3 separate regions of the Homo sapiens genome follow, and all the other regions are linked to region 2. The links come from fine-mapping of genetic effects on plasma protein levels. A gene starts in region 2. Each other region holds a variant in brackets. All regions are shown on one strand. Distances are from middle to middle.

What was found. A credible set is the group of variants that fine-mapping cannot tell apart. PIP is the chance, under the fine-mapping model, that this variant and not a neighbour inherited with it causes the effect. Protein levels are from antibody-based Olink assays in UK Biobank. Linkage for the fine-mapping came from a reference panel and not from the study's own genotypes, which makes the PIPs less certain.
Region 1: its variant is the best candidate, but not a certain one, in a credible set for the plasma level of the PIK3AP1 protein (UK Biobank, PIP 0.69).
Region 3: its variant is the best candidate, but not a certain one, in a credible set for the plasma level of the PIK3AP1 protein (UK Biobank, PIP 0.54).

What each region holds. Positions count from the first base shown.
Region 1 is chr10:96,641,712-96,649,896 of GRCh38, forward strand. It overlaps PIK3AP1 (phosphoinositide-3-kinase adaptor protein 1), which reads right to left. Exons shown (of 17, transcript NM_152309.3): 7 at 6,948-7,144; 8 at 3,762-3,951. Among named protein-coding and RNA genes, the nearest start is that of TM9SF3, 59 kb to the left of the region's middle. RefSeq lists an enhancer at 3,761-3,830. The variant C/T (reference allele first, on the strand shown) is at 4,726.
Region 2 is chr10:96,715,263-96,722,024 of GRCh38, forward strand. PIK3AP1 (phosphoinositide-3-kinase adaptor protein 1) reads right to left here and starts at 5,252. Exons shown (of 17, transcript NM_152309.3): 1 at 5,120-5,252. The coding sequence starts at 5,132. RefSeq lists enhancers at 4,774-4,883, 5,734-5,843 and silencers at 5,014-5,263, 5,314-5,613.
Region 3 is chr10:96,705,561-96,713,745 of GRCh38, forward strand. It overlaps PIK3AP1 (phosphoinositide-3-kinase adaptor protein 1), which reads right to left. Exons shown (of 17, transcript NM_152309.3): 2 at 4,007-4,423. Among named protein-coding and RNA genes, the nearest start is that of PIK3AP1, 11 kb to the right of the region's middle. The variant A/G (reference allele first, on the strand shown) is at 3,797.

The sequences.
Region 1 (8,185 bases), 73 kb before region 2:
GGGACTTAAGTAAGTTACTAAATCTTGGAGCCTTAGTTTTCTTTCCTGTGAAATGGAGATCATCCTATTCACTAAACCCTGGGATGGTCAGATGAGATCACGGGGATACAGGCAGTCCATGGACTTTTAAAGGGCTGCCAGATGTTCCAAGTTATTATTCTGCTGGGCGGTGCTGCAAATACGCATTTTAGATTTAGCAGTTTGTCCTTTATCCTACTTCTTTATGAATTAAGCTGCCTTGTCACCTACAGAGCCACTGTTAGTAAAATAAATTATTCCTCCCCAGGTCCAAGTTGCTGCTGCTTCTGAGCCAGGAGGTAAGCGATCATTCTCAAGGTTAAACTTGACGCCACAGAGACAGAAACACAAACCAAACCATGTCTAGAGTTAGAAAATTCAGAGTTCACATAACTGGGGAAATGAAAAATGTGGGCCGGGCATGGTGCCTCACGCCTGTAATCCCGGCACTTTGGGAGGCCAAAGCAGACGGATTGCTTGAGCTCACAAGTTCAAGACCAGCCTGGGTAACATCACAAAATCCCATCTATATGAAAAATACAAAAAATTAACTGGGCATGGTGGTTCACACCTGTAGTCCCAGTAACTCGGGAGGCTTAGGTAGGAGGATGGCTTGAGCTGGGGAGGCAGTGGTTACAGGGAGCTGAGATTGTGCCACTGCACTCCAGCCTGAGCAATAGAGCCAGATGTTGTCTCAAAAAAAAAAAAAAAAAACAGAAAGAAAGAAAGAAAAAAAGAGAAAGAAAGAAAGAAAGAAAGGTAGAAAGAAAGAAAAAAAGGAAGGAAAAGAAAAGAAAAAGAAAAGAAAGAAAAATGTGGTGGGTTTCCTTTTCCCATGCAAAAAGTAGCCAAATTTGACAGGCTGCCTCCCCGCTGGTAGCCTCCTTCCAGCTACACGGCATCCAGAAGCCCCCTGGCCCGGGTGACTTCACAAGTTGCCAGTTGGCTACAAACCAGGCTAGCTCCAGAGCACACTGCTGCCTTGGGAAGCCCTGGTAAACCTCACTGATCCTGCTGTGAGGGGCCCAGCAGACCAGGAATAATGGAAGAGACACCTGTGGCATTCCCTGCAGGTTTCCAGTGCTGTGGTGGGAGCATGGCATGTGTTAGAACATCCAGGGGGACAGCAAGTGTAAGGCTCTGTCAACACTAAACTGCCAATAAAGTAGGGCATTCTTTAATTGTCCAGTAGTTTCATAGCAAAGACACAGGGCAGAAAGGATGATGCAGTCTCCAGATTCAAGTGGGTACTGGTGGTTCTCCAAGTGTTCTTTTGTGAGTGAGTCCCTATTCCACAATGGAAAGGACTGGGTCCTACCCACTTCCCCGCCTGTATCTCCAACACCCAGAAGACATCAGTAACCGAAATGTACTAGATGCTCCAGACATGCTTATTAGGTATATGGATAGGATGATGGGCAAGGCTAGGGGGCGCCAGAGGCTGCTTTGTTATCCAATATCTGGAGCTGCAGATAGGGGAAGAAAGGCTATAGAGGCTAGATGGTTTTTCCAAAAGGAACCACGACTAAAATGCATGGTGTTGGATAACAATTTCTGCAGAATATGGTCCTAATGACAGAGAAATCTGGATTCAAATCTGGGCTCTATCACTGATTGGCTGTGACACTTTGGGAATGTTCAGCCCCTCTGTGCCTCTGTTTCCCCATTTGTAAAGTGCAGGTAAGAAAAGCATCTTAGTGGGGTAGCTTTCGGACTTCAGGTCCGAAATCAAGGGTGTGGATGGTAGCGATGGTGCTTTCTCTCCCCACATCCATGCCAAGGCACAGCTCATTCTGGAAGAGCTTCCACCAGCACTTCTAAGCCTCCCAGTTAGGTGACGGAGAGGAGCTTTTATTGCTCTTTCCCCTAAAGGAGCACCCAATCTGAATGGCAAACACCTAACAACCTCTGGACCACATCTTGCAGGTTCTGGGGTCAGTGTCAAAGGCCTGCTGGCATCAGAGACTGCCTCTGGCCCTCTGACCAACCTATGCCTTCTCTCCAAGGCATCCTGTTGGTGCCTGCTCTTCCATGAGTTCATGGATGGGAAAGTCAGGCCCGCCTCCCTGTGGGCCCAGGGCCCTACTGTCTTCTTTTCAGGCTGAAGGCTTGTAACACTCAATATAGCCCATTCCAGAAATTCCCCCATCCATAATGCTGATACCTTGGTTGATACTTCTCTTCCTTGAATCTATTAATGAAAACCAGAGGGAAGGAGGGCTAAGTCTCCGGTGGTGCCTCCGCATGCTTAGCATTTGGTAGCGAATGATGGTAACACATGAATAAGCCTCTTAGAGGGCCTGCTGTGTGGGTCTCCTGCTTCAACTCCAGTACGTGCGTGGAGATCAGATCCACTGTTACCCAGATCAGCGGTTCTCAAGGGTGGTGGCACTGCCCCCTGGGGGCGTTTGGAAAATCTATGAGGGTATTTTGGGTGGTCACCAAGGAGATGGCATTTAGGAAAAGGGGGAAGGACCCTAGACATCCTGCTATGTGTGGGACAGCCCTGCCCAATGAAGAGATGTTTCATGTCCCTCGTGACTTTCAAATATTTCCCTAGACATACACATAAGTTTTAAAAAGTACGTATGATACATATTTATACCTATGTGTATATTTCTACATATCTGTGTATATGTACAAGTATGTCTGTATTTTTAAATTTAATGTCAGCAGATATAAGCAAAAATATAGACAAATATACCTCATTTTATTACTAATTATTACCAATGCCATATTGGCTGGGAGTCACAAGTCACAGAACTTCTCTCAACTCAGTTAAAGATTCCTATTTTGTTTTGAGTTTAGGTGTTGGAGGGGAACTTCTACTGCTCATTCACTTTTGTCAAAAGGCATTACTTTTGCATTGGAAAAAACAAGATAATAAAAAGTGGGCAAAGTTTGTTAGACAGTTTATAAGAAAAATCATGATCCTGAAGAATGATATTTTGAAAATAAGCTTACTATATATTAATGCAATAAAATCAAATTACCCCTCGCCCCCCAAAAAATCTGCTTATTATTTTCTGAGCCTAGAACCTAAACTGTTTCACATATAAACACATCTTATTTTTGCAAACACTTAATTTTTTAGAAATTCAATTTCTATGAAAATGGAAAGGAAATCATAAAGAGTTGTTCACCATCTAGGAAAATCCAGGTGCCAATGCCAACATTATTCCCATCATTTGAGCCACCAAGACTGCAAACGTGTCAGTCAATGTTTGAAGCCGTTGACCGTGATTCTGAGTGTGTCTGCATCTGACTCTTTTGTCATGACTTCTGGTGCAGGCATGTTTGAGTATGTCCTCTTCTTTAATTTCTCTTTCCTATTTCAATTAGGGCAGTATATTTGATTTCTGAGAATTTTATATGTAGGTAGGTTATATAATACATAAACCTCATGTCAGAGTAGGAAAATGTTTGTTATAAAAAGGACCCCTGGAGACTGAGGGCTGAGAGCCACTGATTTGGCCTCTCAGATCACGAGGCAATGAGTTCATCAATTCTGACTTCCAGATATTTGCTTAAACTCTCCCAGCAGTCATAACAGAGGAAGTTTGGAGAAGAATTCTGCTTGTCACAGCACATGACTCCAGCCCTAGCTTTGTGTAAAACAGGACCTTCATCTCTCTGGGGTGAAGTGAGGGTACATAGGGACTGCCCCGCGCCATCTTCATCCGGAATGAAAAAAGCTGTTTCTCAGCAGAAAGGTGGAAGCAGAACTGGGTTGTGCTACTTACAGAGGTCTTCAGTGGCAGCTGGGACAAAGGCAGCCATGGACTCATAGAGATCCTCGTCACAGCCGGGGTTGAGCGAGCATTTCATAAGCAGGTCTGTGGAAAGGTGGGCCATGGACTCGTACACAGCATCAGCCTCCTCCCCGTGCATCAGTTCCTCTTTAATGTGACTCTTGAGCATGTCCACCGTTTCCTGAAAGAGAAGATGAGGCCCACGGCGCCCTGAGGCAGCCTGACTTTCCGGGTGGAACTTGGCCCCCGAAGGCACTTGTGGCCAGCAAAGTAAAGGCTCCCATGAGTCAGGATTACAACTGGTTGTGTGTATTTGTATTTTCCCACCTGACTGAACGCTCCTTGAGGCCAGGCTTCCCACCTTTTTTAGTTTATTTCACGTTTTTGTTTTAATCTTCGTATCTTCCTACAACACTAAGCACAGAGTTAGGCACTCAGGAAATACTCGTTAAATGTCCACTGACCAGAGGATACAAATTAAAAATTACTTTCCCATGGCCTGATGTGGTGGCTCACACCTGTAATCCCAGGACTTTAGGAGGCCAAGGCAAGTGGATCACCTGAGGTCAGGAGTTCGAGACCAGCCTGGCCAAAATGGCAAAACCTCATCTCTACTAAAAATACAAAAATTAGCCGGGCATGGTGGAGCACGCTTGGAATCCCAGCTACTCGGGAGGCCGAGGCATGAGAATTGCTTGAATCCAGGAGGTGGAGGTTGCAGTGAGCCAAGATCGCACCAGTGCACTACAGCCTGGGCAACAGAGCAAGACTCTGTCTAAAAAAAAAAAAAATACTTTCCCGTGAGCACCTTTTAAATGTCAGGTACAATGCTAGGTATTTGCCTATACCCTATCTCCTGTAATCCATTCCACTACTGCTTGAGAAAGGTATAATATTCTCTAGTTTACAGATGAGAAAAACAAAGCTCACAAAAATCTAGTATCTTACTCAAGGG[C/T]TTGCAATCCTGATTTCTGATACTTCTTCTACACCCTAGTGGTTCCTCCAAAGGGAAAAAAATGACACAAGAAGGTGTGACCTTTACTGACTAGCCACGCAGAAATTCAAATGAGCTGAACAGGAATGCAGCTAAGGTGTTCTCGCCCTGTGTGTAGTCAGAGGTCACTCCGCAGCTTGGCACACTAGCCCCTGTTCCTTCAGCAGTCTCCTCCAAACTGTCAGGAACCCTGACAGTTTCCAGGGGTTCCAGCCTCGATTTTATGTCCTATGTGCCCAAAAGGAGAGATGATCTTGGATAAAGTGTCCTGACATCAGAAAGGTTCTCCCCTGCCTCCCACTGCCATCCTGCCTCCATGTGATTGTGAAGCCAGAGAGGTGACTTCCCTGAAACCTCTGCACAACTTTTCCTGGTAAGAAACTTTGGTGTTTCACAATCCTTATTTCAGCATCAACCCACAAAAATCCTCATTTTCACCACCACTACCCTAAGATAGCTAATCTTTTATTGACACTTCGTTAGTTTCCTCACGAGACCCAATAAAACAGATGACAGCTGTGAAATGTTGGAGATTCCAGATCTCACCTTTGGTTTTGATGTGGTGAAAAAAGGAAATGGGACAGTTCTAAGAGGCCATAAGCAACACAAAGGGACAGTCTTTTGGTCACAATGCTGAAGCTGCATCGGTTGAAGGTGACCACAGGGAGAAAGCAAAGATGGTATGACCTAGATTGACTTCGGCACAAAATGAAAGTGCATCTTTAAACATCCCAGTTAAATACAACAGGATAACAAGCCCGGGCTTCAGTATCAAACTAGGTGCAAATCCTGTCTCTGCCCTGAATAGTCTGTGGCCCTAAGCACAGTGACTTTGCCTTTCTAAGCCGTTTTCCTCTTTTGTAAAGTAAGGCTTGCAATACTGTCAACTTCAAAGGATTGTGGTGGGGATTAAATGAGATAATACATTTTCAAATCAAATACATTCAATAAATACTAGTTACTACTATGAACACAGTAGGTTATTAATAAAAACTATTGGCATGGAAATGAAATGCTACATTTGGTACATTTGTGACTTTAAGAAAAAACTGAGTAAATACACCCAGACTGAGAGCACCTTTTAGACTTATTTGTGTCAGTGACGCCCAAAAAAAAGGACTCACACCATTTTATTCAAAACACTTATACACCTGTAAACACTGGGAAGTCCCCTCTGTGCCTCCGTGAATCACTGTCTTGTAGATTTTCCAACACAGAGCAGAGAGTTAAGTTTCTGGGGAGATATCAGGCTCTGTCCTGTCTGGAGGTCGAGAGCAAGACCGGGCTGTGTTTATTGCTCCCTGTGAGGTCACAGCCCCATGCGAGAGGCTGAGCTATTCTCAGGTACCCTCTGGGAGTCTGTGAAGAAGGAGGAAAACCACGAGGGACTGGGATCAGGAAGAGCAGCTGCTTCCTAGGCATCAGAGGCAATATTGGGGCATGGAATAAGATGTAGACGTGGGGTGCGATCAGCCTCAAAGAAGGACCCAGAAGTCAATGTTTGAGGAGGAGCTGAGGGCCCCAAACCAGATGATCAGATAAACTGGGCATACCTGCCTGTCTTAACATGGGACCCAGGCAGGGGGTTAGAAAGAGAGAGCGAGGCTGTCAGCAGGAGGTGGGCCTTAGAGTTGCTGCCCTGATGCCTTTCCAGGTGCACAGCTTTATTGAGGTTTCTGCTGAAGAAGAAACCAAGCCTAATACAGTTCACCGGGGCCTGAAGGCGGGTGAGGCAGCTAGGAGCATCCCACCATGGTGCCCTGGAGGCAGGTGAGGAGGTGGGGGGAGATGATCAGCCTCTACCTTCAGCAGATTCACTCTATAAAGGTTTCTGTAAATTCTGTGAGGGTGAACCTCAGTGCTTAATAGAAATGATTTCCTTTTACCTTCAAAAGAACTCTATGACTCAAACTATGATTATCTTCCTTCTGCATATTAGGAAACTGAGAGAGGATACGTGACTTACCCAACGTCACAAGGCTAACAAGTGTTGGTACAGGAATTTGGACCCAGGTCCATGTGACTCCAGACCTCATTTCTTAAGCCCACACATACTGCCCATGGCCAGAAGAGGTACATGAGGACATGCTAGAGATAAAATCTGTTCGTATTTTGGGTGAAAGGGCAGCCATACTACCACAGAGTGCATTTCCAATCCTGGGCCCCTCCTGCCTTGACCTTACCACATACTCGTCGATGAACTGCCGCAGGTCCCTGAAGCCGTGTTTCTCAGCGATGGTGTTGGGGTAGTGGCCATGCTTGTTGGCCACGCTGTACGCCTGCAGGGCTCCTGGGCAGGTGAGCAACAAGGCAGTGAGGTTCTTCAGTCCATACTTCGCAGCAAAATGCAACAGGGTGGGCAGCTCTTCATCCCTCTGATCTGAAAATTATCAAGGAAAACTTAATAGGCAGATAAAAATAAAGGCACAGGGTGCCCTTGTTCATGGAGATGAAGCTGCCAAGACTAGCATGGCAACAGAAAGCACTCAGCCATTACTTATTGATTGACTGACCTAACATCTAACAGCTTCCTTCAGGACACCACTGAAGATCATGTCCTCAGATGCAGAGGACATAATTTTTTTTGTTGAGATGGAGTCTCACTCTGTCACCCAGGCTGGAGTGCAGTGGCGCGATCTTGGCTCACTGCAACCTCTGCCTCCCAGTTTCAAGTGATTCTCTCGCCTCAGCCTCTCAAATAGCTAGGATTACAGCTGTGCATCACGCCCAGCTAATTTTTGTATTTTGAGTAGAGATGGGGCTTCACCATGTTATCCAGGCTGGTCTCATACTCCTGACCTCAAGTGATCCACCTGCCTCGGCCTCCCAAAGTGCTGGGATTACAGGCATGAGCCACCATACCCGGCCATAACATTTTAATTAATTAGCAAATCTAATAATGAATACCCTACCATCTTCTCTAACAGGACTGGAGAATCCTGAGAAAAAGTACCAGTTCAAAATGTGCCGGGTTTGTTTAAAGGCTTAACTAGCAGCCACACAGTACAATAGGAATCATGTTTTGAACTTCTCTGCAAAGTTCAGAGCATGTATTTCTTAAAGCTATTGTTTCGTGCTGATTAAAAGAAAGCAGTTCATCCTCTTAGCCCTTATTCCTAATTTCATGATAAGTACACCAAGTAATCCTGGGTATGTTCCTTAGACTTTCCGCTGCCTTTAGTTCTCAACCAGAAAATACTTCCAGACTATCTCAAAAGGACCTGGGAGGATAAGTAAGATAGTATTCAGCAGGGTTCCTATTTAGGAGAGATTTTGAATGTTGGTCTTAATGCACACAAGCCCCACCAGGACGTCAGTTCACTCTCTAATTGGTGAAAAGCAAAGTACTCCAGAGAGGTGCTGGGTCCCCACGGACCCCCTCCACCTACTGACATCTGAATACAGCAAGTTAAACTCAACC
Region 2 (6,762 bases):
GACTGTCAAAGCCATCAAAAACAAGGAAAATCAGAGAAAATCACAGCCTTGAAGGGCCTAGGGAGACATGACTACCAAATATAACGTAGTACCTGAGATGGGCTCCTGGAACAGAAGAAGGACATTACATAAAAACTAAGGAAATCTGAGGAAAGCCTGAACTTTTAGTTATTAATAATTTATCAGTATCAGTTAACTAATTGTCACAAAAACCACACTAATGTAAGATGTCAATAATAGGTGAAACTGGATGTGGTCTATATGAGAACTCTCTGTACTATCTTTGTAGTATTTCTGGAAATCTAAAATTGTTCTAAAATAAAATTTTATTTAAAAGTATCATTGAGGCTGGGCGCGGTGGCTCATGCCTGTAATCCTAGCACTCTGGGAGGCCAAGGCGGGTGGATCACGAGGTCAGGAGATCGAGACCATCCTGGCTAACATGGTGAAAACCCGTCTCTACTAAAAATACAAAAAATTAGCCGGGAATTGTGGCGGGCACCTGTAGTCCCAGCTACTCAGGAGGCTGAGGCAGGAGAATGGCATGAACCCGGGAGGCGGAGCTTGCAGTGAGCTGAGATCATGCCACTGCACTCCAGCCTGGGCAACAGAGCGAGACTCCATTTCAAAGAAAAAAAAAAAAAAGTACAATTGAAATAAAGAGCACTTAAATCTCCTATATTTAAAAAACAAACAAATAAACAAACAGAACAGCTATTCAAAATGTCTCATTCCTGGCCAGGAACAGTGGCTCACATCTGTAATACCAGCACTTTGGGAGGCCAATGCAGGCGGATCACTTGACGCCAGGAGTTCGAGGCCAGCCTGGCCAACATAGTGAAACTCCAACTCTACAAAAAAATACAAAAATTAGCCAGGCGTGGTGGCATGCGCCTGTAGTCCCAGCTACTCAGGAGGCTGAGCCATGAGAATTGTTTGAACCTGGGAGGCAGAGGTTGCAGTGAGCCCAGGTCGTACCACTGCCCTCCAGCCTGGATGACAGAGTGAGACCCTGTCTCATTAAATAAATAAATAAATAAATAAATAAATGCACAATGTCTCACTCCTGGGGTTCTAGTGTTAAATTCAATTCCCTTTGAGTGAAAGTATTTGAGGAGAAATTAATTACTGCCTCAGACTAGTTAACATTACAACCTATTTGGTCACTAACCTGTGGTGTGACTTAGACCAATTACTAAGTCTAGGCAAATTTGCCTTGATGTAAATGAGGACAATGAAATCTATCACCTTCCCGAATATTGCTGTGCTGGGAAACTGAAAGAAGGGGAAGTTTTTAAAAAGTCCAAAGTGAAAGTTCCAGTCCCTTTCTGATGTGCTGGGTAACAATATAGGACTAAATGCTTTGTCAGCAACTCTGCCTTATATGGGGGAAACTCCTTTCTTCAGCAATAATCCTCTTCCTTTAACCATAAGTAGCTTTTCCACTTATCCTCAATCACATCTCTCTTTTTTTTTGCTTGTTCATTTATTAAGAGAAATGAAACACATGAGCTAACAAGGAGTCTACAAGCCCTAGAAAGAAATGAGGAAGGGTCTTTCTTTGTCCTCGTAAAACGTCAAGAACAGGTTTGGCTACAGAAGGAGAAAGAAATGGATCACAGCAGAGGAAGGGGAGGCTGTAGCAGCAGGGAGTCCATGGGGTGAAAAGCTGGGGCTGAAAGAGAGGTGCCTTTGCAGGATTCAGAGCCCAATGGAGGGCCGAGCGTGGTGGCTCACACCTGTAATCCCAGCACTTTGGGAGGCTAAGGAGGGCAGATCACTTGAGGCCAGGAGTTCAAGACCAGCCTGGCATGGTGAAACCCTGTCTCTACTAAAAATACAAAAATTAGCTGAGTATGGTGGTGGGCACCTGTAATCCCAGCTACTCGGGAGGCTGAGGCACGAGAATCACTTCAACCTGGGAGGCAGAGTTTGCAGTGAGCCAAGATCGTGTCACTGCACTCCAGCCTGGGTGACAGAGTGAGACTCCGTCTCAAAAAAAAAAAAAAAAAAACTCACTGGAGAGAAGTACAGACAGGAAGTGCCAGAAAGCTTCTCAAACCACCCAGCCCAGACCATTTCTTCAGCCTATAGGTGACTCTGGCACCCCATTCATCCATCCTGGAGCCCCATGTTTGAATCTGAACACCATATTTGAAGAGGGATGAGAGATAGGGAAGGTGACCAGGATAAGGAGAGATGTGGTCAATCATATCAGGAGCTTCCCACCCCAGAAGTTGTTCAAATTTAGGTACTGGCAAGAGTATTGAGAGGCCTCAAGGATCACATGGAAGTTAAGGTCACAAAAAGGTTAAAAGTCCCTTCAAGCTCCATGGTCCTGTAAGTCCAGGAATAGTAGAAGGATCTAAAGAGAAGAGCCTTGGAGAGAGGGGGCAAGAGACGGTATGAGAGCTGATACACAGAGGAGAGAGTACTAGTCTTTCTTCACCCAGCCACAGACTTGGCCACTTGGGAAAGTCACTCACGGATCCTCTCTTTCCTCTCTCTCACGTGTAAATACACAAGATGCCATCAGGGGCCTAGAGAATTTTGTGGAATAGGCCAAGTCCATTTCATTTTATCTTCCTACCCAAGGTCCTTTCAAAGACAGGGAGCCTAACTTCTCCTGGATTTCAACAAGCAGACATCTTTCAGAAAACAATATAGACTAATGCTTCCCCTTCAGTGGAAGGGAATTTAAGAATTAGGCCATAAAAAGGAACGAAGTACTGATATAAGCTACAGTGGGATGAACTTTGAAAATATTATGCTGTACAAAGGAAGCCAGTCACCAAAGACCACATACTATGTGATTCCATTCATATACAAGCCCAGAGTAGAGAAATCTATAGAGGCAAAGTAGATCTTAGGGCTGGGAGAGGAGAGGAGAATAAAAGGTTGATACCTAAAGCATACAAGGTTTCTTTCTGAGGTGATGAAAATGTCCCAAAATTGACTGTGGTGATGGCTACACATATCTGTAAAGATACTAAAAACCACTGAATTGTATGCTTTAAATGGATGAATTGTATGGCATGTGAATTATATCACAATAAAGCTGCTTTTAAAAGAAAAGAAGAACATACAGAAGGGTGGCTGGATGACTCCAAAGCCCACAGCACCTTGGCGAGCGGCATTGCTCTCACCACTGTGATCTTCCCCCATGGGTCCTTGTACTTCCAAACCTCAGGGAACCCGAGGGACTCCAGAGACCCAACTCTCAATTACAGCACCTGGAGTGGTGTCTCGCCACAGAAGACGCAGACAGCAAGACAGTTTGACAGCTCTAACCATTACAAACACCTGCAGAAGCTGCTACAGAGCCCATAAATAGCCCCAGGTTTGCCCACCGGACTAGGGTCCCCCTCTGAACTGGAGCTCGCCTTCCTAGCTCCTTCGGCTGTGTCCACTGGAGAGAGGTACACAGGACGCTGGAAAAGAGGAAAAGAGAGGCCATTTTCTCAGACTCTTCCACCCAAAGGCCCTCCCAGTTTGCGGTTTCCTGGACTCAGCAGCCCAGGGCCTGTTCCTGACCATGGAAGGAGGAGGCGGCTTCACTGGTTTATTATCTGGCCTCATCTCCCTCTCCCCCACAGCCCACCTACTCCAGCCACTCTGGCCTACTCCCTTTCCTTTAACGCACCACATACACTCATTGCTTGGAGCACTCTTCCCCAAAGAGCCTCCTCCCCCTGGAAATCTTGGCTCAAATGTGCCTTTCTCCACCCTGGCCACCTCATTTGAAAATCCTAACCCCAGTCTCCCTCACCCTTCTTTATCGTTTTCCCATAACACATGTCATACCAGAGATTTTCCTTATTAAGTGTATATTACCTGCTATTACTAGGCCTCCTTATTCACAACACAGCTTCTTTTAGCCTCCAGAGCCCAGCTGGAGAGCCAGGAGGCTGTGATTAACTACCTTCCCATCCCCTTTAATGAGCCTGTAGTACATGGAACAATCACTCCTGGCCTTTTCTACCTCTGCTTCCGAAGCACCCTTACCAGACCCTCAGAGGATCTGGGGAGAGCTGGCTCTTCATTCCAGTGTTTGCTCACCTCCTGTAAGAACAGTGCCTTCTCCTGGCCACCTAGATTTTCTTTTTCAAGGGGCACCTGCAACCTGTTTTCACAGGTTATCCCTACTAAAACATCATAAAGTGGGCTGGGAAAATACAAGTAAACCCATTTGTAAACACTGTAACTCTACCTCCTCTCATCTAGTAATTCCTTGTTTACTTATTGCTTTCCTCTACAGGACCATAAACTCCTGGAGAGCAGAGACTAGGTGTTTCCTGCCCACCATGGAGAACATATTAGGTGCACAGTATCCATTGGAGTGCAATAGTAAGGACTCATTAATTGTCTCCGTTATCATCATTATGTGGCTTGTCCTGGATCTCCGTCAGTGAGCGACTTGCCAAGTGTGTACACCCATGAACCAGAAGGCAACCCAAGACCAGCCAGAAAAGACGCTTGGCACCCTTTGATGAGTACATTTACCCAGTGACCGCCAACTCTCCCCATTCCCCAAAGTTCTGCAAAGGACGCAGGAAAAGTAAAGTTCAAGGAATAGTGTTCCTAGATCCCTAGCAAAGTTCTAGACCCAAAACACAAAGCCTGGGAGGGGTGGAGGAACGGGGCTTGGGGAACTGTCCCAAGGGCCTCCCCGGCTGATCTCTCCGCACCACCTAGGACTGCCTGAGCGCCCCCTGTGGGTCCACGGAGCCCAGGAGACGCGTTTGGCCCTGTAGACCATCCACATCGCCCGCCCTCCGCTTCTCTCAACTCGCCTCTCGCTTCAGAGTCGGAGGGACAGGGGAAGCGACGCTCAGACACTCCTAGGGCCAGAGGTGGAGGGAGCGAAGGAGACCCTGAAGAAGTGGGAGGGGGTCGGGCCAGGCAGGGGCTGAAGAGAATCGCGCCACAGGCTGGGACGGGAAACGTGGGAAAGTTGGAGTGGGAAGTTTGCGACAGGGAACATAGAAAAGAGCAGAAAGAGGGCAAGATCCCCGCACAGAGGACGCAAACAGAAGCAAGCGGGGGAGCGCGCCTCAAGGGATGCGGGGTACGAGAGAGGGGCCGGGAGCCCGGGGACCCGCGGCGCCTGCCTACCCACCTGAGGCTGCCATGCCGCGGGGCGCCGCTCACATCCCTGGCTCGCTGCGTGCCCGGGGCCGGGACCGGGGCCGGCGGCGTCCTGGCTCGGGCTGGAGGGGCGCCGGGCTCCGCGCGGGACCGGCCGCCGCTCTGGCGCTTCCTCCCTCAGGGCAGCCCGGCCTCGCCACGAGGGCGTGTCCACAGAGTCCGCCCCGCCTGCGGGACTCGGCCCGCGGCACCTGCACCCGCGGCCGTTGGGGAGGGGAAGTGAGAACCCCATGCCGGCCGCCGGCCAGCTCCCCCCACGGCCCCCTGCTCAGGGGCAGCGAGAAGGCGGGGGCTTCGCGCCACGTGCGCCCCACTCCTCGGGAAACCAGCCCTGATCTGCCACCAAAGGGCAGCCCGAGGTGGAGGGGGTGTGGGGAGGAGGCGGAGGGGGAGAGTGTGGGGCTGCCAGGCCTCTGGGAGACAGGGCGGGGGTGTGTGTGTGTGTGAGCACCAGCTGTCCAAGCCACCTCCTCATCGCCTGGGGCTTTGTCCCTAAGCCCCTGCTGCCCCAGCAGGAAAGGGGAGGGGACAGGAAGGGGAAGAGGAGGAGGGCTGGGCACCTGGCCCTGGGTGCTCGGCGTTGCCCTTGAGTGCCCTCCTGTGATCTTTCTGCCGTTCCTTGGATCTGGTCTCCTGATGGCACATGAACATTAATTATAATGTCACATGATAAATGTCTAATAGAGTTTCTCTGCCATTCATTTCCTGTGTTCCTGTCTGCTGGGCGCTGCGTTTAGCACCTTACACACATTATCGCATTGCATCCTCACAGCAACCTTCTGAGGTAGCACCTATCACTGTCTTTACATTGGAGCCAAAGAAACAAGCCAAATACCTTGCTCAGGCTTCCACAGAGAACAAAAGCTCCCGGAGGTTCAGTACCAAGCCAGTCTGCTTCCAGAGCTAGAACTCTTGCTTAACCCTTGCCTTCACCTGCCCTCTTCTTGGACTCCTCCCTTTGCCTGCTGCCGAAATTCAACTGAATAGCACATCCCCTTGGAGTTCTCAACAATCCAGGGGCCAGAAGATGGACCCAGAGAGCAGAGATGAGGCAAGGTTAGGGCTGAAGTCCAGGTGGAAATAAAATGAAATGGATTTAAGAACGGGAATATCAGGATGAGGCCGTGCATTCATTTTCTTCTGTTGCCATAATAAATTACTACAAATTTAGTGGCTTAAAACAACACCAACTTATCATTTTACAGTTCTGTAGCTCAGAAGTGTGACATGAGTCTCCATCGGCTAAAATCAAGGTGGTGGCTGGGCTGGGTTTCTTTCTGCCAAATAGAAGGGAATCAATTTCCTTGGCTCTTTCAGCTTCTAGAAGCCATCCACATTCCTTGGCTCATGGCCTCCTTGTTCTATCTTCAAAGCCAGATGGCCCTGCTTCTGTCATCATATCCCTTTCTCTGACTCTCTTCTGTCTCCCTCTTCCAGTTTTAAGGATCCTAGTGGCCGGGCGCGGTGGCTCACGCCTGTAATCCCAGCACTTTGGGAGGCCGAGGCGGGCGGATCACGAGGTCAGGAGATCGAGACCATCCCAGCTAAAACGGTGAAACCCCGTCGCTACTAAAAATACAAAAAATTAGCCGGGCGTAGTGGCGGGCGCCTGTA
Region 3 (8,185 bases), 9.0 kb before region 2:
CAATTTTCCATTGCATTTCTTTTTTTTTTTTTTTTTTGAGACAGGGTGTCACTCTGTTGATCCCCAGGCTGGAATGCAGTGGCTCAGTCACAGCTCACTGCAGCCTCAACCTCCAAGGCTCAGGTGATCCTCCCACCTCAGCCTCCCAAGTAGCTAGGACAACAGGTACACACCACCATGCCCAGCTAATTTTTGTATTTTTTGTAGAGACAGGGTTTTGCCATGTTGTCCAGACAGGTCTCAAACTTCAAAGCAGAAATCCTTCTGCTCCAGCCTCCCAAAGTGCTGGGATTACAGGCATAAGCCACTATGCCCAGCCAGTTGTTTTTTTTTTTTTTTTTTTTTTTTTTTGAGATGGAGTCTTGATCTGTCACTCAGGCTGGAGTGCAGTGGTGCCATCTCGGCTCACTGCAAGCTCCGCCTCCCAGGTTCACGCCATTCTCCTGCCTCAGCCTCCCGAGTAGCTGGGACTACAGGCGCCCGCCACCTCGCCCGACTAATTTTTTGTATTTTTAGTAGAGACAGGGTTTCACCGTGTTAGCCAGGATGGTCTCAAACTCCTGACCTCGTGATCCGCCCGCCTCGGCCTCCCAAAGGGCTGGGATTACAGGCGTGAGCCACCGCTCCCGGCCATGCCCAGCCAATTTCTTATTGGGATTCTTTTTTTTAACAGAGAAAGTCAAAGAAACAAGTTTCATGTACTTATTTCTCATGGGACTGGGCAGCTGGTGTAGTAACGTATATGAAAATATTAGCTTTTGCTTTTATTTTGAGGTACCTTAGGAAAACCTCATGTATGCAAGAGGAGTATTTTTTAAAAAGATGGGTTATCACAAGTTATAGGGAATGTACCTAAGGACACAATTATCCCAGAAATGTAGTGTAGGGAGAGTACTGTCTTTAGATACTGTTCTAGCCCTAAGCTTCCTGGGAGTCAAAGCAGGTATGAAATGTGGCAAGAAGGTCATACTTCAAAAATATTTAAGATTTTCTGGCCTAGGTGAATCACAGATTTTTAGCCTTGGGAAGTGTCTTAGATCAAGTCTAAATCTGCCACTTACAGAAAAGGAAACTGGAACTCAAAGAGGCAAAATGACTTGCTCAGTACTAGGCATCTGGTTAGCAGCAGAGCCGGGTAATGCAGTGTCCCTAACCCTGGTCAATGCTCTTTTTTCTACACTGCCAGACTCTGAGTATCAGGTTTGTTAAGAAAGCTTGTCCAGCAAAAAAAATCAGGAATATGGCCTCAGAGTCAAGGCCAACCAAGGGCCATGGCTATGGAATACCCAAAAAGCAAACCCAAGTCATCCTAGCACCGACAGAGATCTTGAATCCCCAAATTCACAAACCTAATACCAGATAAGAAAGTTATATTGAGGCTATAAGGCTTCCTTCCTCCTCTTCTCTTTCTTACAATTCCATTTGTCCCTATATCCATTGATTCTGAACTGCAAAGATATCCCACTAAGCAGCTTATTTTAATCTCCCATTAAAGTAATCTCTTTCTGATGAGAAGTTCCTGCTCTTAGAACAGGAGCACCCTGTAAATGAGTTCATTCTTTCCGAGACACTTGAAGCTAAAGGCTCATAGCATACTGAACTACAGTCTTTGGTAAAAAGTGAAATAGTAGAAGAGATCAATTTATCCAGGTATTGAATCACTGGACACATCCAAACAATATTAAAATAATCCTTTTTTCTATCTACTTCAAAAAATAACACTACTGTTTTTTGTTTGTTTGTTTGTTTTGAGACGGAGTCTTGCTCTGTCGCCCAGGCTGGAGTGCAGTGGCACAATTTCGGCTCACTGCAACCTCCGCCTCCCGGGCTCAAGTGATTCTTCTGCCTCAGCCTCCCGAGTAGCTGGGATTACAGGCACGCACCATCACGACTAGCTAATTTTTGTATTTTTTTAGTAGAGATGGAGTTTCACCATATTGGCCAGGCTGGTCTCTAACTCCTGACCTCATGATCCGCCCGCCTCGGCCTCCCAAAGTGCTGGGATTACAGGTGTGCACCACTGCGCCCAGCCACACTACTGTAATATTTTAAAGAACAATCTGTTACAGCGTACAGTATGAGATGCCCAGTCAGTGGCAATACATCCATGGTGGGTTCCAGGGGCTGGCCTGCGAGATCCTAATGGACCGATGCAATGACATAAGATCATCCACAGAAACAACCAGTTGTGTCTCAGTTTTTTGTAAGTTTGGGCAGATCACAATTCCTTCAAAGTAATGAAAGGCAATCATGCAAAAATGAATTATATGCTTTTTCTATCATTGTCTTTCTAACGTAAAGATAAGCAAACTCTAGAAAAAGTACTAATCCAGGTCCCGGCATTTCAGGTGAGACATGTTTTACATTCACACTAGTGATTTATGTTACAAAATGAGAAGGAATCTTACTTTGTTAAAAGACGTGGTCATGTTTATTGGTTTAGAGTAGCCAATTCCTGGGATAAAAGCACCTAGGAAGTTACATTACCTTTTTAAGGCCACTGAAAATTAGTAAATTCTTGATTTCATTTATCAGATGGCATAGGGGTGGGTGAGACAAATTAATGCCCAAGTCACACCAGGGATAACTGAGGCACAGTTAAATCAGGACCATAATTTTCCAGGCTTCTTTGCTGGCGTCAGGTATATAAGATCTCATGTGGCAAGAGAACAGAATATAAACACATAGCCCATTCATAGCCCACAGTGAGGCAAAAATAGAAAACAAAAAGAGGCTAGGCGTGGTGGCTCACGCCTGTAATCCCAGCACTTTGGGAGGCCGAGGCAGGTGGATCACCTGAGGTCAGGAGTTTGAGACCAGCCTGACCAACATGGTAAAATCCCGTCTCTACTAAAAATACAAAAATTAGCCAGGTGTGGTGGTGGGCACCTGCAATCCCAGCTACTCGGGAGGCTGAGGCAGGAGAATCACTTGAATCCAGGAGGTGGAGGTTGCAGTGAGCTGAGATCACACCACTGCACTCCAACCTGGACGTCAGAGCGAGGATCTGTCTCAAAAAAAAAAAAAAAAAAAAAAAAAAAGCAAAAAGAAAGCAAAAAGAGGAAGAAAAGCTGTGATATGTGTCCATCCCAGAGCATGTCTTCTGTTACTGTTAATCAGAGTGTGTGTCACACTTCCTGGGGCCACTGAAGTCACTAACCCCGGCAGAAAGGATCGGAATTTTCCTACTCTAAAAGGAGAAATGGCAAAATATAGAAGCTAGGCTGGTGGGAAATAGAGAAGAGGGCTATTTCTCTATAAACATGTTATCGAAAAAAACAATGCCTTGGCGGGGCACGGAGGCTCATGCCTGTAGGCCCAGCACTTTGGGAGGCTGAGGCGGGTGGATCATTTGATATCAGGAGTTCAAGATCAGCCTGACCAACATGATAAAACCCTGTTTCTACTATAAATAGAAAAAAATTAGCCAAGCATGGTGGCACACACCTGTAATCCCAGCTACTCGGGAGGCTAAGGCAGGAGAATCGTTTGAACCTGGAGGCAGAGGTTGCAGTCCACTGAGATCGCACCATTGCGATCCAGCCTGGGTGACAGAGGGAGACTCCGACTCAAAAAAAAAAAAAAAAAAACCCTTTTTTAACAAAAATGTGAAGTTCGCGTGATGATAAAATGGAAGTAACATGCAAGCAGGAGAGTGGGCAGTCTTGTTCCTCACACCAACAGCAAACTAAGTCTCTGCCTCCCAGCCCCAACTACTTTCTAGGCTGGAACTCTGTCCTGTGTCTTCCAAGGCACAGAAAATTCTAGAAAGAAGGCCTTTGCCCTAGTACAGAAG[A/G]AAAGGGACAGTGTCCTCTTCCTCTCCTGATAGTCCAGGAGAGCTGTCCTGCCCCTATCCCACCCCAGAAATAGGCTGCTCTAAACCCATAAATATGACCAGGTCTCTTAACATAGTGAGATCCCCGCTCATTTTGGAATATAAACTTACACCTAGGACCTGGATTAGCAACTTTTCTAGGGCTTGCTTATCTTTAGAAGAAATCCTTACCTTCGGAAATGGCTTTTTTCACAGCTGCCACGTAGGTCTCTGGCTCATCGTCACAGGTGAGCTCCTGCCAATGGGCCCAATCTGGAAAGAAGTCTAGGAACTCCTCGCTGTCCCGCACGCCGCAGAGCAGCCTGACCACGCGGTGCGGAGGATGGAAAGCTCTCTGCAGCAGGGGCAGCAAGGCGGGCTTGTGGAAGTGCTGCACCAGCTCCGCGGACAGCAGCACCACGACACAGCGGGTGCTGAGGAAAAGGCTTAGGTCCTCTGCCGAGAAGGAGGCCTCGGGGCCCAGCCTGTGAGTCAGTATCTTCTGGCTGCGGACCTGCCGACTGGACAGGAACAGGGTCTGCAGGTACTGGCACCATTCCTCGGCATCCGGGCTGTAGACGATGAGGATGTCGCATCCTCTGGGCACCCCTGGACAAGAATGAGGCACAGAAGCATGTTAGCACACCTCCCCTTCTAGGTGGCTCCCCACAGCCTGCAAAGGTAGAGCATCCAGACACTGGGTCTGGCACCCACAATCTTTCGTGGTGTGCCTCCAGCACACCAGCACACCTCACTCACGCATTTCTTTCCCCATTTACAGTCTGTGTTCCAATCATACCAGACTCCTTATCTTTGCCCAAACATACCACGCTGTTTTATTATTTATTTATTTATTTATTTATTTAGAGACTGAGTCTCGCTCTATCACCCAGGCTGGAGTCAGTGGCCCAATCTCAGCTCACTGCAACCTCTGCCTCCCGGGTTCAAGCGATTCTCCTGCCTCAGCCTCCCAAGTAACTGGGATTACAGATGCCTGCCATCACGCCAAGCTAATTTTTGTAGTTTTAGTAGAGATGGGGTTTCACTATGTTGGCCAGGCTAGTCTTGAACTTCTGACCTCAAGTGATCCACCCATCCCTGCCTCCCAAAGTGCTGGGATTACAGGCGTGAGCCACCAGGCCCAACCCCATACTGTTTTAGATCCTTGCACGAGCTATTGCTTCTGCCTGGCATGCACCTTCCCCCCACACCTGAAGCAGTATGAGATCATAACAATAATAACAATAATAATAAATAATAATAATCGCAACAGCAAACACTTATATAGAGGTTACTATGTTCCAGGCACTCTTCCAAGCACATTGCCTACTAAACTCATTACATCTTCACAGCAACTTTAGAAGGTAGGTACTATTATTAGCCCATTCTTTAAAAAAATGAGAAACCTGAGGTGTGACAGGTTAAGTAATTTGCACAAGATTCACAGTGGCCAAGTAAGGATTTGAGTTAAATTAGATATTTCATGTAAACTGCTAAGCACAGTGCTTGTCATATAGAAAACCCTCAGGAATTGGTAGCTGGTGTCATCATCCTCACATGAATATAAATAATGTATCATATTAAAGTGCATGGTAGTTGTGAATTAATGCTGTTACCTCCACAATACAATCTGCAAGGTGTCCCTCACCACACCTGGCCTATAACATAGGCTTTCTTCCTCTAACAAAGCACAAATGCCAAAAAGAGAGTCAAAAAGGGCTTTTAGGGATCACTTGGCCCAAACTCCTCATTTACAGATGAAAGAAACATTTCATCTAGGAAGGTTAAGGGACTTGCTCAACTTCATACTCTAGATTATTGGCAGAGCCAGAACTGACACTCAGGTTATTCCCTGGTTCCCAGTCCAGCCTCCTTCCCAACTCACCTGCACCACCCATCAGGAACTATGTCAAGAATCTTACGAGTAGTAAGTCATAGCTTCCAACTACCAAAGTTCAAAAAAGCTTGGCTCTTAATGTAACTGTTACCACTGTTTTGGGTCATCATCTCTCCATGAATTCAACAAACTGTTCTGTGTGTGGTTTGGAAGAGGTGAGTATAAAGTGTCCATACAACACAACAGGGAACTCAGAGAAGGAAGCTGGTCACATTTTATGAAGGTTGGGAACCACCTAAGTTGTAGACTAAAACAATTAAACGCTAGGCCTGGGCCGCATTTCATTGATGCTTCCTGTTGAAAAGGACAGAGGCAGGACTTAGGCAAGACCTAGAGGCTCTGAAAAGATCATAGGATGAATCCTCTTGCCTGCCCCCATCCAATCCACCACTATATTCAAACCAAAAAGCAACATGTACAATGCAAGCCCAACATAGTTCTGATTTCCCCCAGGATGAGATTACCAAATTTTTTTTTTTTTTTTTTTTTTTTTTTTTTAGACGGAGTCTCGCTCTGTCGCCCAGGCTGGAGCGCAGTGGCACGATCTCGGTTCACTGCAAGCTCCGCCTCCCGGGTTCACGCCATTCTCCTGTCTCAGCCTCCCAAGTAGCTGGGACTACAGGCGCCCGCCATCACGCCCGGCTAATTTTTTTTTTTTATTTTTAGTAGAGACGGGGTTTCACCGTGTTAGCCAGGATGGTCTCGATCTCCTGACCTCGTGATCCACCCACCTCAGCCTCCCAAAGTGCTGGAATTACAGGCGTGAGCCACCGCACCCGGCCATATTACCAAATTTTTAAAAATAGCAAATAAAACGAATGTTTGCAGTTTCATTCTGTTTTGAGTCCCCCTGGTTTTCTGGAGCCCTAATCCAGTGCTAATATAAAGCCCACAGTAGACTTCTTAGCAGGAGCAAGTTGATCCGCCTGAGAGTATTTTTGAAGGGAAGGTGTACAAATCTTTTAAAAAGGCAATCTTAGACAAACAGTATGGAACTGGCGAAAACCAGTCCGCAATTCTGACGATGCCCTGGACATTTGTGGTTCTACAGAGAACTCAATTCTGATCACGGTCTGTTCCCTCAATTGTGAACATAATGGTCCTTTTCAGGAATGCCTACCCTGATTCCAAAGCTTACACAGATTAAGGACAAAAAGTTAATGCACCAGTGCTGCAGCCTGCCATAAAAATAAATAAATAAATAAAAATCTTTGCTGCTTGGATTTTTTTTTTCTGTGTAGAATATTTCTTTATACCTCAATGGAAAAATCATTTCAAAACTATAGAAGGTATAACATTGGCAAAGCTACATAACTATGCAACTGACATTGAGAAGCAGAGTTAAATTATCAGAATATATTTACCTTCTTTCTGTCCTTCCTTCCTATGTGGCTGGTTTATCTTAAGAGGCAAACGTTCTTCTAAGTGTCAAGTGTTATTGCAGATGTGCGTGCATGGGCACGAGCCATCAGGTAGGACAGGTGCAAGACTTTACATTTCATTATAACATTAAGGATGCAATGTTAGTGATGCTGTGCAAGGAGCCTGGAGCATTTTGTAAAAATGCAAAAGTGAAAAAGGGTAGCCACCACCTTCCTCTGCATACATATGCGTATCATGTCAACAATTTGTGCAATAAGCAGAAGGAGAATAAAATCTCAGGAAGGGATGGTTGTGGTCCCATATACTAGTGATGAAGAAACCATAAGTAGTGTTTTCAATAGGGTTGGCAAGTGATGGCAAAAAAGTGAAGAAGAGGGAAGAAGAAAATTTCCTAAGCATAAGAAGAACCCTTAAGAGGGCAGCTTGGGGCCAGGCCCAGTGGCTCATTACTAATCCCATCACTTTGGGAGGCCAGGGCGGGCGGATTGCTTGAGCTCAGGAGTTTCAGACCAGCTTGGGCAACATGGTGAAACCCCGTCTCTACAAACAATGCAAAAATTAGGCCAGGCGCGGTGGGTCACACCTGTAATCCCAGCACTTTGGTAGGCCGAGGCAGGCAGATCACGAGGTCAGGAGATCAAAACCATCCTGGCTAACACGGTGAAACCCCGTCTCTATTAAAAATACAAAAAAAAAAAAATTAGCCGGGTGTTGTGGCAGGCACCTGTAGTCCCAGCTACTCAGGAGGCTGAGGCAGGAGAATGGCATGGACCTGGGAGGCGGAGCTTGCAGTGAGCCGAGATTGCGCCACTGCACTCCAGCCTGGGAGACAGACCGAGACTCCGTCTTAAAAAAAAAAAAAAAAAAAAAAAAGCAAAAATTAGCCAGGCGTGGTGGTGTGCTCCTATAGTCCCAGCTACTCAGGAGACTGAGGTAGGAGGATTGCTTGAGACTGAGAGGCAGCTTGGGTTTTGGGGCACTGATTGACTTAGTAGAAAAGCAACAGCTTTACACTGTTCTAAAGACCACATGGCCATGAGTGATTACTCCAATTTTATAAGAAGAATTTAGTGATCCAAAAGTAAGTGAAC